Linked DNA regions of Homo sapiens. The protein of the gene in region 1 interacts with the protein of each later gene in a pairwise test. Each region holds a gene or a part of one and is shown in the gene's direction. Other genes may lie near its edges.

Region 1 (7,994 bases):
TAGGCGTGAGCCACCACGCATGGCCTGTCATTACTTTTAATGGTAAAAACTGCAATTACTTTTGCACCAACCTAATACCATAGTGCTAAAGACATAAGAGGTACTCAATAAACAGTAGAAATAATCATGATAGTCCTTGTTAGGGACAGCACTGATCTGACAAGTTCTCACAGAAGGCATGCTCTTCTTGTAGAGGTCATGGGACTCAGAAGCCCTGTTCCTAAACATTCTCTGGGACTTTTCTGAACAGCCTACCTCCAACATGTTTCCTCTGCCTCTGCTAACTGGAGATAGGACTTTAGGACTTTGCTCCAGCTTTGTTCCTCGGTTTCAGCTTTTTTGTTTCCTCTCACTGAGGTCTGTGCATCTTTCTATTTGCTCATGAGCTAACCATGCCTGTCTCACCCCAACCCTAATACCCAGCTCTTGATGACTTTGGGGAGGACAGTAATGTTCATTGTTTTTTTCTAATTATAAGACTAATATAGGGTTGGTGCGGTGCCTCATGCTTGTAATCTCAGCAATTTGGGAGGCCGAGGCAGGCAGATCGCTTGAGCTCAGGAGTTCAAGACCAGCCTGGGCAACATGGTGAAACACCATCTCTACAAAAAATTAGCCAGGCGTGGTTGCGTGTCCTGTAGTCCCAGCTACCTGGAAGGCTGAGGTGGGAGGATCACCTGAGTCTGGGAGGTCGAGGCTGCTGTGATCACGTGACTGCACTCCAGTCTGGGCAACAGAGTGAGACCCTGTCTCAAAAAAAAAAAGAATAATATATGCTCATTTTTGAATATATATATATATATATATATATATATATATATATATATATTTTTTTTTTTTTTTTTTTGAGATGGCATCTCGCTCTGTTGCCCAGGCTGGAGTGCAATGGCGTGATCTCGGCTCACTGCAACCTCCGCCTCCGAGGTTCAAGCGATTCTCCTGCCTCAGCCTCCAGAGTAGCTGGGACTACAGATTCCTGCCAACACGCCCAGCTAATTTTTATATTTTTAAAATAGACGGGGTTTCACTGTTTGGCCAGGATGGTCTCGATCTCTTGACCTCATGATCCACCCACCTCAGCCTCCCAAAGTGCTGGGATTACAGGCGTGAGCCACCGCGCCCAGCCTTGAATATTTGTTAAAGGCAGAAAAATTTGTTTTAAAGTAAAACAAAAATCTTCCATAACCCCACAGTTTAAAGATTTCACTTTTAGCATCTTGATATATTTCCTTCCAATGCTTTTTTCTGTGCATGTACATATGACATAATTGGGCTCATGTTTTTGGAATCACATTTTGCAGCCTGCTTTTCTAACACTATAATGCTAACACGTGCCCATAACATTAGAATTTCTTCAAAAACATGACTCTTAGTGAGTGTACAATACTATATTATATGGACTTATTTTTATTTGAACTATTCCTACTATTGCTGTAAGTTGTATCTTTTTTGCCTTTTATAAATAATTCTGCATTAAGCATCTTTGTACATAATTATTTGTGTGCTTCTCTATTTCTTTTGGGATAAATTACCAAGTGGAATCCCTAGGTCAAAGGGTATGAATATTCTAAAGGCTGTTAGCATATACTGACAAATATCCTCTATGGAATTTCTAATGAAGTTAACACATGCATGGATTTTTTGAAATCATTACCATAATCAAGATACATAATGATTCTTGGACGGCCACAGTGGCTCACGCCTATAATCCTAGCACTTTGGGAGGCCGAGGAAGGTGAATCACTTGAGGCCAGAAGTTCCAGACCAGCCTGGGCAACACAGTGAAACCCTGTCTCTACCAAAAATATAGAAAGATTAGACAGGAGTGGTGGCATACACCTGTGGTCCCAGATACTTGGGAGGCTCAGGTGGGAGGATCGCTTGAGCCTGGGAGACAGAGGTTGCAGTGAGCTGAGATTGCACCACTGCATTCCAGCCTGGCAACAGAGTAAGATCCTGTCTGAAAAAAAAAAAAAAAAAAAAAGCTACATAATAATTCCATTACCCCAATAAACTCTCTCCTGCTATCCCTTCATAGTCATCCCCTTCATAACCCTTATGGAATATTTAGCTCTGTAGTGTGGAATTAACTGATCATTCTTAGCTAATTGTCTTGATAGCATTACAATGCCCCCAAGTTAAAATAACTCACTCAAGTATTATCAAGAAGTTTCTGAGTCAGGTTGTAGCAGCTGCCAGGACTGGTCTCCAAAGTGGGTGGATCTGTTAAGGACTCCTCTCAGAGTGGTGCCTGAAAGAGCCTATTTCTGCCATTAAGACTGCAAGACATGCTGAGATTCAATCACAGGACTGTGGGGAGAGGAGCAGGAAGAAGCCAGGACTAGGCTGGAGCAGAATTAGTGGGAATGGAATTAGTTATAGAGCTGACCCTCAGGGCAGTTAGACAGAAGTCTAAATTTCAAAGTTCAAGGACTTGGGATGAGTAAGTGTCAGGTGTGACGGACTTAGCACAAAGTAGCACTGAAAGCTAAGGATTTGATGTGGGTAATACAATGAAGATATCCTAGGCAAAGGCAGTATCTTGGTTCAATGGGACAGGGGAGGATTAGGAGGAGAAGAAGGTGAGGAAGGGAGACAGAAGATATTGGGAGTCTAAAGGAATGGCCTAGGCTCTTGGACAAGAGTTCACAAGGACTCAGCTAGACATCAGAACTCTTTAAAATGAGCAGGTGAACAGGTGAACCTCTCATTCTGGAGAGAGAATTAGGTGACCAATTAGGAACCAAGGGGTGGCTCAGTGGCCAAGAATACAGTGGGGTTTAGGTGCTTTCCAATGTGAACAGTGACTCTAAGGTAGTGGTTTGTAAACTTTAGCGTGGGTCAGAATGCCTCCCAAACCAGGAGGTTTTGATTCAGTAGGTCTGGAGTGGGAAGCCAGAATTTCTGATTCAGTAGGTCTGGGGTGGGGATCCAGAATTTCTGACAAGTGACCAGGGCTGCTGCTGCACTTCTTGGAGAAGTACACTTTGAGAACCACTGCTCTAAGGCAAAAATACATATATTGAGATTAGAATAACCATGTCATTTGCACGTCACCCAGTACACGTAGGAAAAGGGCTCCTAAATGTAACACAGGGCTTGGCTCTTCCAGGTGATGAGCTGGTAGAGTTAAACCTGCTGCTGGAAGTGTTTTGTGCTTCCAGGAGGGCAAATAGGGTAGGAAGCATCACTGGAATTCTCACAACACTGGAGTTCTGTCCTGTATAGGTCATAATACTCTTAAGTGATGTTATTCTGACTTAAAGGGCCAGCATCTAAAACTGTCAAACTGTAATTCTCTGCTACAGAATCCATTTTCTTCTTCTTTTAGGACTAGCCCTCTTTGCTTATTGAGGAGTAATAAAAATAATGTCCCCTTATATTAGCATAGCACGTTCTAATTCAAAAAGTGCAATGACATGATATCTCATTTGATCTCCTTTCTGTGATGGAGGCAAGCCCGGTATTTTTATCCCATCCTTTGGGCTACTGATTCTCAAAGTATAGTTCCCAGACCTGCAGCATTAACAACACCCAGAAACTCTCTAGAAAAGCAAATTCTGACCCCACCCCAGACTTACTGAATCAGGTCCGGGGTCTGGCAGGGGGCCAATAATTCGCATTTCTAACAAGTTCCCTGGTGATGCTGATGTTGGTGCTGCTGGTCCCAGACCACACTTGAATGAAAACCACTACTGTAGATAAAAATGAAAGATGTAGAAGCCCAGGGACTTGTCCTAAGAGGACTCCTGCCTAGATCCTTTTCTTACTACACCTGCTGCATCCCTGGTCCCTACGCGCCCGCCCCCACCACCTCGCCCTTCGCAAAAAAAAAAAAAAAAAAAAAAAAAATTCCTTCAAATCCCAGCTGCATTATTTTAGAATTTTGTGAATGTGAATACCTGTAAAATGAGGATAACAATAGGATCTACCTCTTTGGGTTCTCACAAAGATTAAACAAGAACTAGGTAAAGTACTTAGCACCGTGCTTGTGCTTAATAAATGCCAGGGATCATCATGATTTTTTATTAATATTAAAAGTGACAATTCACAATGAATACCTTGGTAAGTTCTTTGGATGTGTGTCTTCAGAATGCTCCTCTTAAAATGTGAATGTCCCTAGATAATGTAGACATTAAAGCACCTGATCGTTAACATTCCATCTCTGATTGCCATGAGCATTTGGCTGAGAGCAGGGTACTTCGGAAATGGGACCCACGACTGGTAAAGTAGGAACCAAGAGAAAATAGAGCAGTGCATGGAACAGTGTATTGAAAGGCACACAACAGCAAGACTTCTTGAGGAAACTTTGAATAGCTGGGGAAGGGGAAGAGTGGCTGACAGAGGAAGCAACTGCGAAAGGGCAGCCAGGAGTAGGAGGCAGGCTGTTAAAGACAATCTACCTCCTTCAAAGTTCCCCCTAGGGCAGCCCCAGGGGAGGGCTCCAGGGCTACACCAGGCCACGAGGGGATCTGCCAGGGTTCACGTTGCATGAAGTCCAGGGGTCGAACACTCAGGTGCCCATAGTGAATGCCCGGAGGGGCCCTCCACTGGCAATTAGCACAATGAATTTGGGCTCAAAAGTGGCTTTGTCTTCAGGGTGACTCCTATTTGGCAAATATCCTGACTACAGCACATCATGCACTAGCTCATCCCAGGGACATGGTCCTTTATTAGTGGAGGTCTGCTATGTTGTTTCTCAAGGCGTCCTAGGCCCCTCAGGAAGCGGTTTTATGTTATCTGGGTGGCGCAGCCCGGGTCCCGTGCCCAGAGAGGACGGAGACCTTTGCAACTGAATTAAACAGAAGAAACAAAAGCAGCAAGTTCGGGCCCGTGGGTACGGAGGGCTAGCCAATGGGGCCCGGCCGCTTCCCGGCGGAGTGGTACTATGATGACAGTAGCCAACCAGCGCGCTCTATGCAAATGAGATACTGTATCCCGCACCAGCCGCTTCAGTGTCGTCTGGTTGTTATAGTGATAAACTGAGGCCTTGCCTCTTGGCTTCTGGGAGAGAGAGAGAGAGAGAGGGGCGGGGGGTAACCTCTTTACTTCCCCTAGGGAAGACAGAAAGAAGGGGAGAAGAAGCGGGGGGATGGGTGGAGGGTAGAGGGGAGAAAAATACGTGACAAAGAAAACATTCTCTGCCTGGGAGGAGACTCTCTGAGGGTGTAGAGCTAGAGGGAGCATTCACTGGCCATGCCAGTAGTTACCACTGATGCTGAGTCAGAAACAGGTATCCCAAAATCCCTTTCCAATGAGCCTCCCTCAGAAACCATGGAGGAAATAGAGCACACATGCCCACAGCCTCGACTGGTAAGTAAAGACAAAGGATGGAAATGTATGCGTGGCTATGGCATAAAAGAGTTCCTTATGCGCCCGCAGCCAGCGAGGAAAACGATGCTTAGAGGATTTTCATGTAAATGAGAAGAGCGCTACCGCCTAATCCTTCTCAGCTGTTTATACTTAGCTTCTATACCGGGCGCTGCTCTCAGTTTACAAAGCGTTATTGTATTGGCTGGGTAGGAAACGGGCTGCTTGGGATATGCTGTGTTTTTGTGCTTCGGGAGGAGGGGAGGGCCTTTTTCCTTTTAGGTGTGTTCTTGTCTGAAGGTAAAAAAATCCTACAGTGCAATTTTAAAATGGTATTCTCTTTACCAAGCTCGGGAAGAGTCCCTTGTTAAGTTTTAAATTCTAGCTAAGGAATGCTTCGTTCCTCAACTGATTTTGGTGCCTAATGCCAATTTGGGGGGAAAAAAATGGAAACATGGAAGCAAAACTTCCCCATCCGTTTGAAAATGTTCAAAATAAATAAATAAATAAATACATAGGAGTCCCTCAATGATTTAGTTAGAAATAATACGCATTTAAAACGAATTGTAAAACATTTCCAGAGTGTGCTGTGAGGGTTTCTCTTCAGGTAGTGGAAACCTGGGGAGCTACATTTATTTAGAAAGGGGTTGCATGCCTTTAAGAATGAAAGTGTGGAAACGGGGTACTGAGAGCGTCCTTCCGCCTCCGTAACTGCACCGTAACTGCTCTCCCAAATTTGGTCGTCTCTCTATCCCTGGTCATGATCTTTTAGGTAGATGTGAAACTTCGTTCCCAACCACCTCAGCATGTGTCCTCAAGGAATCAAAAACACGCATGGGTGGTGGGTTTTCTGTGGTCCGAAGTCTTGTGGAACTTGGGGAGACCTCTCTTTGAGTCCCCCAATCCAAAAGACACACTAGTTAAAGCTATCCTTTCCTTTAGCGATTTCCCTCAAGTTAAAAGGTGGAATATTTTGATTGGCTGTGGAGTTTGACCCTGGGAAGAGTTTTTTAAAAAAGGATTTTGTGATGTAGCATTTTCTGTGAACCTGCAAAATTAGGGCTCGCAGATGAGAAGGCCAACCCATCATAAAACTGTTATTTCTTAATAAGAGTTAATAAGGGTTCAAAGGAGGCTTAGAACAACTTCCTAAAAAGCACAAATACAGAGGAAGTTATATTAGAGCCCTGTGGGCTTTTTTCCCCTATGCTTCTATTTTTAAAAATGTTTTCTCTTAGGGCAGTTTAATAGTAACTGTGCCCTAGCACTTTAGCCACTTACTGAATGACATACACAGTGCAGTGTCTATGTTCTCATGAGATACAAACCATCCCAATAAGTTTGTTACTAAGGGATTCCTTTGAGTCACTAAACAACTTATGGTTTAGCATAAAGGAAAATGACCACTAAAAGCATATTACAAGATTATCATATGCACATATACATATATACACATAAATAGAGAGAGAGACTCACTCTGTTTTCCAGGCTGGCCTCAAACTTGAACTCCTGGACTCAAGTGATCCTCCTGCCTCAGCCTCCCAAGTAGCTGGGATTACAGGCTTGTGCCACAGCACTGGACCAATATATATATGTGTGTATATATATATATGTATATACACACATATATACATATATACACACATATGTATATATATTTGTGCCCATGCTTACCCAAAAATATATTTTTTAAAGTAACCACAATCTTCAAATTTGCATCACATACCTTCCTGACAGAGGTAAAGGGCAGAGGAGAGAAAGGCGGCATCCAGCTCCAGTTTGTGCATCATTTCAGTCTCTTTTGCCTACTATTTTTCCTTCCATTTTTACCTCTTAGCTATTCTGCTTCTTGATTGCTTCTGCCTGAGGGAGATGGGCAGAGAAAATTAAGGGAAAGAAGAAAGTTCAAGTTACTTTCTTGTTTTTTTAAGATGGAGTCTCACTATGTCCTCCAGGCTAGAGTGCAGTGGCCTGATCTTGGCTCACCACAACCTCCACCTCCCAGGTTCAAGCGATTCTCCTGCCTCAGCCTCCTGAGTAGCTGGGATTACAGGTGGGCAGCACCATGCCTGGCTAATATTTTTTTGTATTTTTGGTAGAGACGGGGTTTTGCCATGTTGGCCAGGCTGGTCTCGAACTCCTGCCCTCAGGTGATCCGCCCACCTTGGCCTCCAAAGTATTGGGATTACAGGTGTGACCCACTGCACCTGGCCAAGTTACTTTCCACTTTCACTCGTGACAGCTTATTCCAGGTGGTAACTCACAAGAACCACGCAAAGCTGGCAATGTGCTCTACACCCTCACCTCCCACCCATTGTAGAAATAAGGAAACTGAGGTTCAGAGAGGGTAAGTGACTTGCCCAAGGGTCACACTGCTTTGAAGGGGGCAGAGCTGGGATTTGAACCCAGAGCTCTACACCGGAAAAGTGGAAGATCTTTCTTCTATAACATACTCATAAGTGAGATACATTCCCTTCCCATCTTTTTGGCAGTTCTGGTTTCGTGTGTGTGTGTGTGTGTGTGTGTGTGTGTGTGTGTGTGTATCATGCACATGCATAGGTATGATACAGATGTACATAAGTTGAACTGTTGAAGCACCTGCTTTGATTTACTTATGATACAAAATTTTCCACGTTGTTCATCATTGTCATGGGCTACTGAAATTTGACTCTGTTTAAACAGGG
Region 2 (7,109 bases), on another chromosome or scaffold:
TAGTTTCCCCATCTGTACTCTGGCCTCCAGCAGTTTGTTCTTTATGCAGCAGCGAAGAGTGATCATAAATAAGCTTATCTCACTCTCCAGTTTGAAAGCTACTAAACGTCTTTCATAGCAATTAGAATAAAATTCAAACTCTTCGGCATGGCCTACACACAAGGCCCTAAATAATGTAAATGATTGGACTCGCTCCCAGTTCTCCTGTCACTCTCCTCAATCACCATGCCCCAGCCTCAGTGGCCTTCCTTGGCACACCCACAGCTCATTCCTACCTCAAGGCCTTTGACTTGCCATTGCTCATGAGACCGATTGCTTACCATCACTCAGGATCTCATTCAAAACTTCATTCCTGGAAAAGGTCCTTCCCGACCATCAAGCTAGAGGAGCTTGCTGCACCCCTTCTCTGCCCACAGCTATGGATCTCCAAGTGTGGGCTTCAGACCAGAAGCGTCAGTGTTGCCTGCAAGCATTTCATTTTGTGTTGTGTTTTCTCTGGAAATGCAGAGTCTTAGGCCCCACCACAGACCCACTGAAGGAACAGCTACATTTTAACCAGACCCCAGAGTGATTGTGCTTTAAAAATTTCAGAAGCACTGATCTAGAGTTTCCCCTTCTAATTTTCCTGTGTATCTGTTACAAGGTGTGTCCATTGCTGCAGGTAATCTGGCATTTGTTTACCTGTTTATTATTTCTCTTCCCTAAATAGAATTTAAGGTCCACAAGGGCAGCACCTCGTCTGGCTCGTTCACTTCTGGATCCCCGGCACGTAGCGTCAGTGCACACAGTACATGCTCAATAAGTATTTAGATGAGTGAAAGAATAAATGAATATAATGGAAATTATTTTATGTTCTTTGAAATGTATAACTGAAGGCTGGGTGTCATAGCTCAGCCTGTAATCCCAGCACTTTGGGAGGCCAAGGTGGGAGGATTGCTTGAGTCCAGTACTTCAAGACCAGCCTTGGCACATGGCAAAGCTGCAACTCTATAAAAAAATACCAAAAAAAAAATATATATATATAGCTGGGTGTGGTAGTCTCAGCTACTTCGGGAGGCTGAGGCAGGAGAATCACTTGAACCTCGGAGGTCAAGGCTGCAGTGAGTCATGATTGCAACTGCACTGTAGCCTGGGCAACAGAGGAACATCCTGTCTCAAAAAAACAAAACAAAACAAAACAAACAAAAAGGATTGCATAATTCTACAATAAAAATCTTCATGGCTTTCACTTGTTTGTAAAATCGGGGTGATTTTTCTCTCCCAACATCATCGTTATACAGGGGTTTCATTCTATATCTTGGGCATCAAGTGCTATTAAACTATTGTGGCCTGTGAAGAATTACTTATTTATCCTTGCTTTGGGGCAGTTTGTCTTCAGAACCAAAGTTTAGATTTTGTTTAGACTGATTCTCTACTGACTTAACACCATAACTGGTTTTTTTTTTTTTTTTTAGTATTTAAGAAGCACTCTCGTTCAATCCAGAGTTAACATTATCTTTAAAGGTTTTTTATTCAAAATGAATGTTTGATATTTGTATCAAGTTTTATCAAATAAGTTAACAATTTAAAAAAAATCAGGTTTTAAAAATGTTAAGTCAAATGCAAGATTTAAAGTTAAATTGCAAATAAAAACTGATAGGGCATATAATGTATCCAGTTTTTTACATCTGAGATAGGATTCCAGGAAAGACCTATAGTTTCTGATATTATCCTGCATTTTTTTTTTTTGAAATGGAGTTTTGCTCTTGTTGCCCAGGCTGGAGTGCAGTGGTGCAGTCTCGGCCCACTGCAACCTCTGCTTCCAGGGTTCAAGTGATTCTCCTGCCTTAGTCTCCCAACTAGCTGGGATTACAGGTGCACACCACCATGTCCGGCTAATTTTTTGTATTTTGAGTAGAGACGGGTTTCACCATGCTGGCCAGCCTGGTCTCGAACTCTTGACCTTGTGATCTGCTCGCCTCGGCCTCCCAAGGTGGTGGGATTATAGGTGTGATCCACGGGCCCGGCCCTACATTTAAAAAATACATTCCCAGTATATTTCTTAATGCATATCCTGGTGAAATTTGTGAAGAAACAACTTTTCAATCTATATTCTTTGAGTGAATAAATAGCACAACTTACATTCTATGGTTTTCAACTGGGGGCAGTCGTGTCCCAGCGGATGTTTGGCAATGGCTGTGACTGCATTTTTGGTAGTCACACCTGGGATGGAGGAGTACTGGCAGCATCTAGTTGGGGGAGCTCTGGGGTACTGTTAGTTATGTAATGCACAGAACACCCCACAGCACAAAGAATTATCTAGCCCAAAATGTCAGTAGTCCACTGTTAAGAGACAGTGGACAACTGTCTCCTTCTGCATAGAGAAGTCTCCTTCTGCAAATACTAATGCCATTGGAAAACGAATACTTTGCCCTACCTTCTGGAGAAGAGAATATATAGAAATTGGCAACTGAGAGATTCAGATGGGTATACTGGCACCTTTAGATATGTTCATTTTAGATGATTATTTCTAATCAGAAATCTAGTGACTGGCCTCCCTCTCTTTGGGGCAAATCACTCTCTCAACACAGGACATTTAAGACATTTCACAACTTAGTTGATTTTAGAATTGGATAACGTTCTCAAATAATGATACATTTTTTAAAATAGGGAAATTCAAATATAGGGTTACTGGTTTTCCTTATTTTACAGATGGGGTCGAGGATTTGGTCTTTTGGGTTCCATTTTTGGAAAGGATGGTGTATTAAACCAGCCAAACAGTGTCTTTGGACTTATATTTTATATACTACAGTTATTACTTGGTAAGTATTTATCAATACAAAAATAAGTTTGTTATATTCCGTTTAGTACTTTGTGTCTTTGCCCTGAAGTGTCTTGATGTTAAAGCATGTGTTATTTATAGAACCACTAGCGTGTACAACATTTTTGTGTTATGAAAACTTGATTCACTGAGATTTTTATTATATTATTGTTGAATTTATGTCAATTGCTGTTTAATCATGGAGAGCAGTATCTCATGATGTCCAGAAAAACCAGTCCCATTCCAGGAAATTATCACTCCCATCTTCCCTGTTAACGTTTTTCCTTATTTTATAGACTCAGTGGCCTTGAAAAATATCATATATTAAGGGGACATTAACAAGAAACCATATTCATAATCCCATTACCTTTACATATCCACTATTTCCACAGTCTTCTGCTTTTAAAAATAATTTTTGGGCTGGGTGCGGTGGTGCACACCTGTAATCCCAGCACTTAGGGAGGCCAAGATAGGCAGATCATCTGAGGTTGGGAGTTCGAGACCAGCCTGGCCAACATAAAGAAACCCTGTCTCTACTAAAAATACAAAATTAGCTGGGCGAGGTGGTGCATGCCTGTAATCCCAGCTACTCATGAGGCTGAGGCTGGAGAGTCACTTGAACCCGGGAGACGGAGGTTGTAGTGAGCTGAGATCGCGCCATTGCACTCCAGCCTGGGCAACAAGAGCGAAACTCCGTCTCACAAAAAAGAAATAAATAATAATAATAATAATAACTTGGGGCCAGGTGCAGTGGCTCACACCTGTAATCCTAGGACTTTGGGAGGCCGAGAAGGGCAGATTACTTGAGCCCAGGAGCAACATGGTGAGACTCTGTCTCTGTAGAAAATACAAAAATTAGCCAGGTGTGGTGGCACACACCTGTAGTCCCAGCTACTTGAAAGGCTGAGGTGAGAGAATCACTTGAGTCCAAGAGATGGAGGTTGCAGGGAGCCGAGATCACACCACTGCACTCCAGCCTGGGGGTCAGAGCAAGACGCTGTCTCAAAAACTAATAATTTAATGTGAACTGTGTTTCAACATAGTGTCGTTTATCCTAAGTGTTATTGTTAACATCTAGGTTTCACTCCTTTTACTTCCAAATAATGCTGCAGTGATCAACTTTGTTTAAAGACCTCCTGCTCCTTCCTTCCTTTGAATTATCTCCACAAAATAAATTTCCAAGCATAGTATCAAAAAACACAGATATTTTCAATTTTAATCAGTGTTACCAATTTGCTTTTCCCTCAGTTCTTTGGTTTCCCTGAAGCTCCAGCGGTCTTTATTTTTAAGACATGCTTTGTAAAATTTCTTTTTTTTTTAATTGTAACGATAATCTTCACCTGGAAAAATTGCTAATAGTTACACATTAGTACCTATTACTTTAATTTTTACTCTTTTTAATTTCCTTTTATTGCCCATTTAGCATTTAGTTATTGGATCCCGATACTAGTACATTTTTATATGTGTTACAAACATTTTATGCATTCTTTATCCTTTTTTGTTAGTGTTATGAATTTGTATTGTATTAAGTTTTTATACTTTTAGAGTTAAATCCATCTGTTGATGCCTTTGCATTTTATTTTTCTTCTTTTTTGTAGATCTTGTTGCATACCAATGCTTTTGTATTTTAATTGTTAATATTCCATTACCTGTCAGCTCTTCTGATTTGGTTCATTAAAAATACATGTAACTCTTCTATCTGAAATTGATTTGTTATGAGGCAAATTATAAATCTAAATCATCCTCAGTAGTTCTGTCGAGTTTGCCCAGTTCCATATCTATGTATTTATCTTGCAGAAGTAGAAAGATGTGTGCACAAGGATATTCATAGCAGTACAGTGTAAAATAGCAAAAAAAAAATGGAGGTAGGTTACAAATAGATAATGGTTGAATAAATTAGAAAATACTATGAAATACTATGTAGCCATTAAAGGAAAAAGGAGATCTATGTTTATATCCTAGAAAGATAAAGACACTATTTAGTGAAAAAAGCAAATTTTGGTATAATAGGTATAGGATAAACGTGTTTGTATACATGCATGTAAATGCATAGAAAAGGGTCGGGTGGTTGGGGAGGAGGGAGAAATTTCACTAGGTATTCTGCATGTTTCCATTTTGCTGGATTTCTAGAGAAGAATATGAAGTATAAGCCCAGATGCAAGATGTTTTCCTTTAAAGGCAAAGAACCTAAGAACAGCCTTTGACTAGATTAACTCTTGAAGATAGAGGTGTGACAGCCAAATTTTTGTTTTACCATTAATTTAATGCCATGGTATATACATATTTTAAATCATATTTATCACATGTGTTTTTTCATTCGCATTTTTTGACTCGCATTTAGATGCTTCACGTGCCTTTTAATGTTGGTGTCTTCATGGGAGGCACATTTGAACTAACCTAGCAATTTCCAGAGCACAGCATCTGTACTCCCTTCTAACCTGTTTGAGACACAGCATTTTTAATTTAATTTTTTCATAGGTAATCCATTCACGTGGTTCAAAAGTTTTTAAAAAGGACCGGGCACAGTGGCTCATGCCAATAATTCCAGCATTTTGGGAGGCCAAGATGGGTGGATCACGAGGTCAGGAGTTCAAGACCAGCCTGGCCAACATGGTGAAACCCCATCTCTACTAAAAATACAAAAATTAGCCAGGTGTGGTGCCGCACACCTGTAATCCCAGCTACTTGGGAGGCTGAGGCAGGAGAATTGTTTGAACCTGGGAGACAGAGGTTGCAGTGAGCTAATGTCGCACCATTGCACTCCAGCCTCGGTGACAGAGCGAGACTCCTTCAGGAAAAAAAAAATATATATATATATACATATATAAAATGTTACACAAAGAAAAATCTATCCCACCCCTTCCCTTTATGCCTGGTTTCCAGTGCTCCTCAGCCCCGACTGGTAGCTTGTTATTGTCTCTTTATGCATATACGAGAAAGTACAAATACACAATCTTAATTTTCCTCCTTTTTAAAATATAAAAGGCAGATGCTATACCCACTGTTCTGCAGCTTGCATTTTCTTTTTTTGCCTGATGAATATATCATGGTGATTTTTCCATATCAGTATATTAAATGTCTTCATTCTTTTCTACAGCTGCAGAATAATCCATTGCATAATTGTACCATCATTTATTTAGAGTTACAGCACATTTTAAATTCCACTGGGAATTTGACCCTGAGCCAAACGTACCTAGCTGCATTACAGTAGCATTTAATGGATATCTGGTATTTATACACTATTCTAAGTGCTTTAATCCTGCATTATCTCAGCTCATTTAATTGCCCAGCAGTCTTAAGAAGTAGGCATGATTGTTATCCCAATTTTACAGTTGAGAAAAGAAAGGCATAGAGGAAGAAATAAGTTGCCCGTATCATTCTGAAGTTAACTTTCTTAGGTAAAATTGTGACCACATTAATTTCGAAATGTTAGTTGTTTAGCATAGGTGAAGTCAGCAAACTTTTTCAGTAAAGGGCCTGGCAGAAAATAGGCTTTGCCAGTTGCCGCAGCCACTCAACTCTTCTAGTATGAAAGCAGTCACAGACATTACGTAATGAATGACATTACATAAATGAATGAGCATGGCTGGGTGCCAATAAAACTTTATTTACAAAAGCAGGTAGCTGGCCAGATTTGCTAGTCCCTGCAACAAGTAATTCAGCAGCACCTTAGTCTTGAAGTGCCCTATGAAAGCATCTAGGCCCGTGGCTGTGCGGCAGCCGGCCCACAGGCGTCTTCTTGTTGCATTTTTTTTTTTGCCAACAGGGCCCAGGATTTCAGCTCTTTAACTGACTTCTTTATACCTGCTCCCACCTGTTATTTTGTTCCTGTTTCTGTTATCCTTATCCATGAGTCATTGGGTAGGAGGGTAGTTTAACATGCTCTGCCTTCTCTGTCCTTGAAAATAAATGCACATATTCTCTATACTGTTGCCTATAAGAAATTAAAAACAATACATGTGAAGATAGAGTCCAGAATTCAGGTGCCTTTTTTTTTCCTTTTTTTTTTTTTTTTTTTTTTTTGAGACAGAGTTAAGACTCTGTCGCCCAGGCTGGAGTCCACTGGTGCAATCTTATCTCACTGCAACCTCCGCCTCCTGGGTTCAAGTAATTCTCGTGCCTCAGCCTCCCTTGTAGCTGGGGTTGCAAGCGTGCAATACCATGCCCAGCTAATTTTTTTTTTCTCTTGTACTTTTTAGTAGAGAGGGGCTTTCACCATGTTGGCCAGGCTGGTCTCAAATTCCTGACCTCAAATGATCTGCCTGCCTTAGCCTCCCAAAGTCCTAGCATTACAGGCATGAGCCACTGT
Region 3 (7,109 bases), on another chromosome or scaffold:
TTTAGCTGATAAATTGGGTCAGGCAAAGGCATCTAAACATTGCTTTCCTCTTAAATCATCTTTGTTTAAACAGTTACTGTCTTTCAGTGATTAAAAACTACCTATCTTGTGAAAAGCGAGAGAAAACTTGAGTGAAATATAGTAAGGCTGTTTACCTAAGTGTTTTACTTAGATTTCCACAGGAAATAGTCAAGTTATTTCTGAAATGTGAAATGCCAGCATTCTATACAAACTAGGAACTCAAGAGCCTACTGGATCCCAGCCTTTTAAGTGTGAAATTATCTTTTTCATATCCAAAATTTTCAGTGACTCCTCTTCATGGCAGTAGTTTTGTTTTGTTTTTTGGTATTTGTTAAAACAATTAAAAATAACTTTTTTTCATATTTTACTATTTCAACAGATATCTTTTTAACTTGGAAAAATCATATGTAAACCATATTACATATAGTCATATGTTATTCAAGCAGATGATATTTTTGTATTAATTGGTTCATAAATATTCTGCTGTGTACCTGGACTTCATATTTTCCTAAAATAACTTGGGTTTTTCTGGAATGGGTAGTCCAGAAATTGAAAATCTCTAGTAGAAATTTATCATCTGGGGAGAGCTATATAACATTTTATGCTTTTAAATATTTAAGAACAGCATGATTTTTTAGGGTAAAGAATAAGACATTTTATTGTCGAGGGTATAGGTAAATTGATGTACTCTTACATAGCTGTTGGAAGTGTAATTGGAATAGCCTTTTTGGGAAGGGAAGTGTAGTTAGAGATATGAAGCCTTAAATCTATTCCTTTTCAAACCTCAACACCAAAACCTAGGAATTTGTCATAAAATATAACTGCAGTTTTTCATAGTAGTGAAACACTGGAAACAACCACGTGGCTAACACTGGGGGATGAACTAAGGTACACAGCTGTGCAACCGAAGAGGAAACTGTAAAAGCCTTTGAGACTACTGGGGAGATCTGAATAGGGCCTGAGGATGAGGTGAATCATAGTTCATTGTGCTGCTATGATAATTATGGTGGTTTAGAAAGTCTTTATCAATTTGAGATCCGTAAACAAAGTTCAGGAGAAGCAAGATTTGTAAAAGATTGCCAGTTATTAAAGCTGGGTGACAGATACAAGGGATTTATTCCACTAGTCTCTAATTTGGTCTGCGTTCGAAAATGTACATTAAAAAGTTTGGTCTGCGTTCGAAAATGTACATTAAAAAGTTTGGTCTGTGTTCGAAAATGTACATTAAAAAGTTAAAAACAAAAGCATAAAAGTATACATGTTTTCATAGGAAGAGGTTGTTCACAATATATTAAGTGAAAAAGGAACATTATAAAGTATTTGTTCACTATGACTATATGTTTTTTCCCTTTGCCCTTTTAATATATGTACATATATATTTATAACAAAAATAAATTTAAACTATACCCTAAAAATGTTAATCGTGGTCCTTTCTAGTCAGTGTGATTATGATTACATTCATTTTCCTTTGCTTAGCTTCTTATTCATGGGTGTCTCCCATGACTAGGTTTTTCTTATATTTTAAAAAGGTTTGAGAAAGAACAAACTCACAAACACAAGTTAAGTCACTGAGCTGTGTGCAGAGCTCACTATTTGCAAGGATCTCCCAGATGGGCAATGCCTGGCGTTCGCTGCCAGGACCGAATGACCAACAGCTGTCCTCTCTGTGCTGCTGCCCCGCATCCCTATTGCGTGTGACTCTTATTCCACCCAGAAATTGCAAATGCCACCTTGGGGCTCTGCAACAGGACACGGAGTTTAGTTTAGGGCCCTGATTATGTGTTTGCTAGAGAATTGCTGTTATGTGTTAAGCTTTTAGGAGCACAGCCAAATTTACAACTCATTTATTTTAAGGTTACTTTATTGTCATATTACTCTTATTTAACATTTTTTATTTATTTCCTCTTTCTTTGTTATTCCCTCCCCTGTGCCTTCCACATTCTACACCCTTTACCACAGGAGAGGTCTCTGTTAGCTTGCCGAACATACTACTCCGGACACATCTTTTCCAGTGGGCTGTATTTTCTGCTTTCATTCTAACTGTGCAAATTGTCATCATTTGTGCCCCAGCCAAAGCTCACCTTTCAACGGGGCTTTCCTCCTGCCCTCCAGCTTATGTTGATGAGATTCCCTTCCAGTCTGTTACTGCATCATTCAGCAGTGGTTTTATATTGTATTTGCATTCCGTATTTAATATCTCTTTAGAACCAAATTGTGAGCCTTGTTAGGTCAGAGACTTGTTGCATCCTTTGTGTCTCCATCCCTTAGTGCTGCTTGGCATATAGCATGAGCTCCATAAATACTGGATCTTGAATAGAGCTGTCCTATGCAAGTCAGCCAAGTCAGCCATGCTCCATGAGTGTACGTGATGCATTGGCGGCACTCTGCCACGCTGTTACTTTACTAACTGTCATGGAAAACCAAGCTTCTAAATATTATCAATCAGTAAAAACTTAGGTAGCAATTATTCATTTCATAATTTTCCATAGGATTACTAGCTCTACTTTTGTACTTAAAATATCATTTTAAAAAGTTAATTTTCAGCCAAGTCTTTTAAGACTCCTGCTACAGGTGTGAGACCTTCCTATGATCACTGCTGTATGGTTCCTTTTCACTTTTGCCTCATGTCCTCTGTCTAAAAGATCAAACGTTGCTTCTGTATAAAATTGTAATAATAGTTGCTCAACATTTCAACTGCATTCCTTGACTGAGTTTTTTCTAAAATGCGTAATTGTAGGAAATGTGATAAAATTTACAGCTTTGTTTTGTGTGTGTTTCTGCTTTCCTCGTAGGAGAAATACGAATGTGCTTTAAAGCGAGCAAGTATTAAAATTGTGACTCCTGACTGGGTTCTGGATTGCGTATCAGAGAAAACCAAAAAGGACGAAGCATTTTATCATCCTCGTCTGATTATTTATGAAGAGGAAGAAGAGGAAGAGGAAGAGGAGGAGGAAGTAGAAAATGAGGAACAAGATTCTCAGAATGAGGGTAGTACAGATGAGAAGTCAAGCCCTGCCAGCTCTCAAGAAGGGTCTCCTTCAGGTGACCAGCAGTTTTCACCTAAATCCAACACTGAAAAATCTAAAGGGGAATTAATGTTTGATGATTCTTCAGATTCATCACCGGAAAAACAGGAGAGAAATTTAAACTGGACCCCGGCCGAAGTCCCACAGTTAGCTGCAGCAAAACGCAGGCTGCCTCAGGGAAAGGAGCCTGGGTTGATTAACTTGTGTGCCAATGTCCCACCCGTCCCAGGTAACATTTTGCCCCCTGAGGTCCGGGGTAATTTAATGGCTGCTGGACAAAACCTCCAAAGTTCTGAAAGATCAGAAATGATAGCTACCTGGAGTCCAGCTGTACGGACACTGAGGAATATTACTAATAATGCTGACATTCAGCAGATGAACCGGCCATCAAATGTAGCACATGTAAGTCACTCTTTCCGAAAAAAATGTCAGTATTGGATCTTAGAATTGGATTTCACAGTCTATTTCAATGTAGTTTATTGGTTTTGCTTTTTCAGACCAAATAACTTACAAGCAGTATTTGTGTGAGAACCTGTTTACTTGTGTGTGTGTGTGTGTGTGTGTGTGTGTGTGTATGTGTATATATGTATATTTCAGGGTCATTGAAAAAGGGTAACAGCGTATTTTAAGTTGAAGATTTAAAGCAGCTGAGTAGAACCAGGATGTCAGTGATGGAGTACTATCCGTTGAAGGGTTTCCACTCTTACTTAGTTTAAAATTAGCAATGGCAGCAAAGAGAATAATGAAGTTTACCAGCTGTACCTGATTTGCTTATAATGAACTTCATGGTAGTAAATAAATAACACAAATTCATGCATTTGTTGAGGAAGGCTTGATTTCAGGTTACAGTTTATATAGCATGGAGCTTATTGATACAGAGTGGATCTTAAGTTTTGTTGCTGGTTGTTTTTTGTTTTGTTTTTGTTTTTTTTTTTTTTTTTGAGATGGAGTCTCACTCTGTCGCCCAGGCTGGAGTGCAGTTGCATGATCTCTGCGCACTGCAACCTCCACCTCCCGGGTTCAAATGATTCTCCTGCCTCAGCCTCCCGAGTAGCTGGAATCACAGGCATGTGCCACCATGCCTGGCTAATTTTTTTTTTTTTTTTTGTATTTTTAGTAGAGACAGAGTTTCACCATGTTGGCCAGCCTGGTTTTGAACTCTTGATCTCTAGTGATCCACCCACCTCGGCCTCCCAGAATGCTGGGATTACAGGTGTGAGCCACCACGCATGGCCTTAAAAGTTTTAAGTACATATATTTCTATTTAAGACAGAAAGAAGGTAGTTGAGGTGGTATATTGGCCACTCTGCATTTTTCTGGGCACTGGAGATAAAATTGTGACTAAGAAAACTAATTTAGGTAGAGAAGACATACAGTAAGTGGAGAAATATGAACAAAAGGACTGTTGATGGTGAAAGGTGTTTCAAAGAAAATAATCAGGGTCCCGTAATAGCAGGTGAAGGGAAGGAGGCTATTTTAGACGAGATGGTCAAGAAGGACCTCGGGCAGGAGGTGACTTAGATCAGGGTTGAATGACAAGGAGAGGCCATGTGAAGAACTGAGGGCACAGAGTTCCCAGGCAAAAGGAAGACCCAAATGGCATGAATTTGCTGAGTTCTAAGAAAAGAAAGTTAATGAAATTTGAACTTCATAAGGTGAATGAGTTCTAGGAAGGATTTAAAAGGGGCCTTGCCATATAGGGCCATAGTGAGGAGTATGGTCTTTCTTGGAAGGAAGCCACTGGGCTTTTGAGTTGGGGTGAGATGCACTCTGTGTAAACAGTGGATCTTTGAGGGGCAAGAGTGAAGCAGAGAGGCCCCTTAAGAGGACATAGAGTTGGAGTTTGAGACAGAAAAAAATGAATGGGAGGATCCAGCTTTCTGGCTTGAGCGAGTGAAGGAAGATGATGCTGTTTCAGAGATAAGGAACACTGGAAAGCTGCAGGTTTGAAGAACCTAAGTTTCTTTTCAGATGTGTTGGGTTGGAGGTATCTGATCCATGCAGGGGCTGTCTGCTACGTGGTGGAACCAGAGAAAACAAGGCTGACTGAAGCTGTGGAGGCGGATGTGAGAATGTGTAGTAGGTGGGGCAGAGCAAGAGGAGGGTCTGGGGCCAGGCTCTGAGGAGCCGCACCATTGAGAGCCAGCTGGGCTGTTCCATCTGATGGTGACACCCCGTCTGCCGCTTCACCTTGTTCTGGACACTTTCATTTCATAATGACAGCTCAAAGTCCCAGAAAAATGGCTCTGTAGCATATAGGAACAACCTGAAGCCGGATCCAGTATTCTCCACATCCACTTTCAGTGGAAAGGCTTGATGTTGATGAAGTGGGGAAATTCAGTATGGCGTAGGTATAAGGTGATGTTGACAATGATCATTTTATTGGGTATGATAATAGCAGTGGTTTACGTAGTGTTTAGAAATGCTGTGGGACAGACAAAATCTTTGTCTCCCCTCCCCTCCACCTAAGCAGCGAGTATTAGTAGTACACGGTTCTTGGGATGATGACAGCGGTTGGCTGGCATCCAGAGTAAGATAGAGGCAAACATGCCCTTTAGATGTTAGACAGCAGACAGTTAAGATGGTGGGGGAGAAGGTGAGCAGAGAGAGAAGGTCATCGGGTTTGAGGAGAATAGAAGATTTTCAAATAGGTGATTCATAGATAGGGAAGACTTTGGGTTTCTGGCTTGAGAGGTGGATGCCTGATAAAATGCCGAGCTGGCCTTCCTCAAGTCCTGGGTGGTGACAGTGCCTTGTAACTGAACAGCAGCTGCCCGTTAGGAGCTCTTGGGCCTGCTTCAGTGCCCACCGCTCCATGTCACCTTGTTGGGTCCCGGAGGAAAACAGGCCTGCCACTGACCATGGGTCTTGGGGGTGGTTGGGAATGTGTGGCTGAGGAAATGGGGAGAAGGCCACCAAGATGAGGAGGTCCAAGAGCTGCAAGGCCAGGGATTGTCCAGGTGGGTGCCCATGAGAGCGCTGGGGTCAGCCGAGTTTAGGGAAAAGGTAGATGCACAGAAGGAGCCAGCTCCAGCACCGCCCAATGCTGAGGGTGCCGGCCCTGGTCCCTGCACATCCGCGTCCAGGCAGGTGGGCGGGATAAAGCCACAGGGCACAGCCTCAGCCACAGAGCAGCAAAGTGACGATCACACAGTCGTCCTGAGAGCCAGAGGATGTCATGACAGGTAGAAAGTAAAGGCCATAAAGAATGACAGGCTAGAGGCAAAGAGGATTCTAGCATTTTTGACCTCAGTCATGAGAAGAGTGATGATACTGCTGAGGTGGAGGAATTGAGAAGGTGACCCAGTCCTGGCAGGAAGACTGCGGCCACGCAGTGGACCTGTCCTGTCAGCAGTGGGATATGCGAGATATGGGCCGTAAAGATCTCTCTCATAGGGTTGGTGTGAGAAATCATGGATTAAGCCTCTGGCACTTCGAGAAATGGCTACTTTCTCACTTTCTTTAGGTGAGAAATTATGGACAGAAGTCATCCATTTGAAATAGGAAATTTTCTTTGCTTTTCATTTATCTGTGGTGTCAAAAAGTGTTGGTCAGTTACTGCTGGTTAGTTACTACTTATTTCTAATATATATGTTTTGGTTGTTTTTTGAGACAGAGTCTCACTCTGTTGCCCAGGCTGGAGTGCAGTGGTGGGATTTCTGCTCACTGCAAACTGCACCTCCCTGGTTTAGGCGATTCTCTTGCCTCAGCCTCCTGAGTAGCTGGGATTACAGGTGCCCATTACCACGCCCGGCTAATGTTTGTTCATTTTTATTAGAGACGGGTTTTTGCCATGTTGGCCAGGCTGGTCTCGAACTCCTGACTTCAGGTGATCTGCCTACCTCGGCCTCCCAAAGTGCTGGGATTATAGGTGTGAGCCACCGTGCCTGGCCTTATTATGTTTTTCAAATACAATGGATGTTGGTTTAAATATAAAGTTCCTTAAGTTTGTATTTGGATATAGAGACAAAATAATTTACTTTGAAATGGAAAGAATTGACTGCAGTAGGGAGTTTGGGCACATCTCTGCACTGGAAATTGTCCTTAGGAGACAAATTTGAT

Evidence for each region.
Region 2: the proteins of PCYT1B (region 1) and VKORC1L1 interact in binary tests that used the Homo sapiens proteins (3 or more experiments, as listed by UniProt).
Region 3: the proteins of PCYT1B (region 1) and PAXIP1 interact in a two-hybrid assay, tested with the Homo sapiens proteins (one study listed by BioGRID).

The regions. Positions count from the first base shown.
Region 1 is NC_000023.11:24,644,308-24,652,301, reverse strand, and holds the start of PCYT1B (choline-phosphate cytidylyltransferase B), read left to right. Parts: upstream 1-4,954; 5' UTR 4,955-5,196; coding exon 5,197-5,313; intron 5,314-7,994.
Region 2 is NC_000007.14:65,945,980-65,953,088, forward strand, and holds part of VKORC1L1 (vitamin K epoxide reductase complex subunit 1-like protein 1), read left to right. Parts: intron 1-2,691; coding exon 2,692-2,801; intron 2,802-7,109. UniProt on the Homo sapiens protein: Involved in vitamin K metabolism. Can reduce inactive vitamin K 2,3-epoxide to active vitamin K, and may contribute to vitamin K-mediated protection against oxidative stress.
Region 3 is NC_000007.14:154,972,036-154,979,144, reverse strand, and holds part of PAXIP1 (PAX-interacting protein 1), read left to right. Parts: intron 1-2,813; coding exon 2,814-3,449; intron 3,450-4,239; exon of another isoform or gene 4,240-7,109.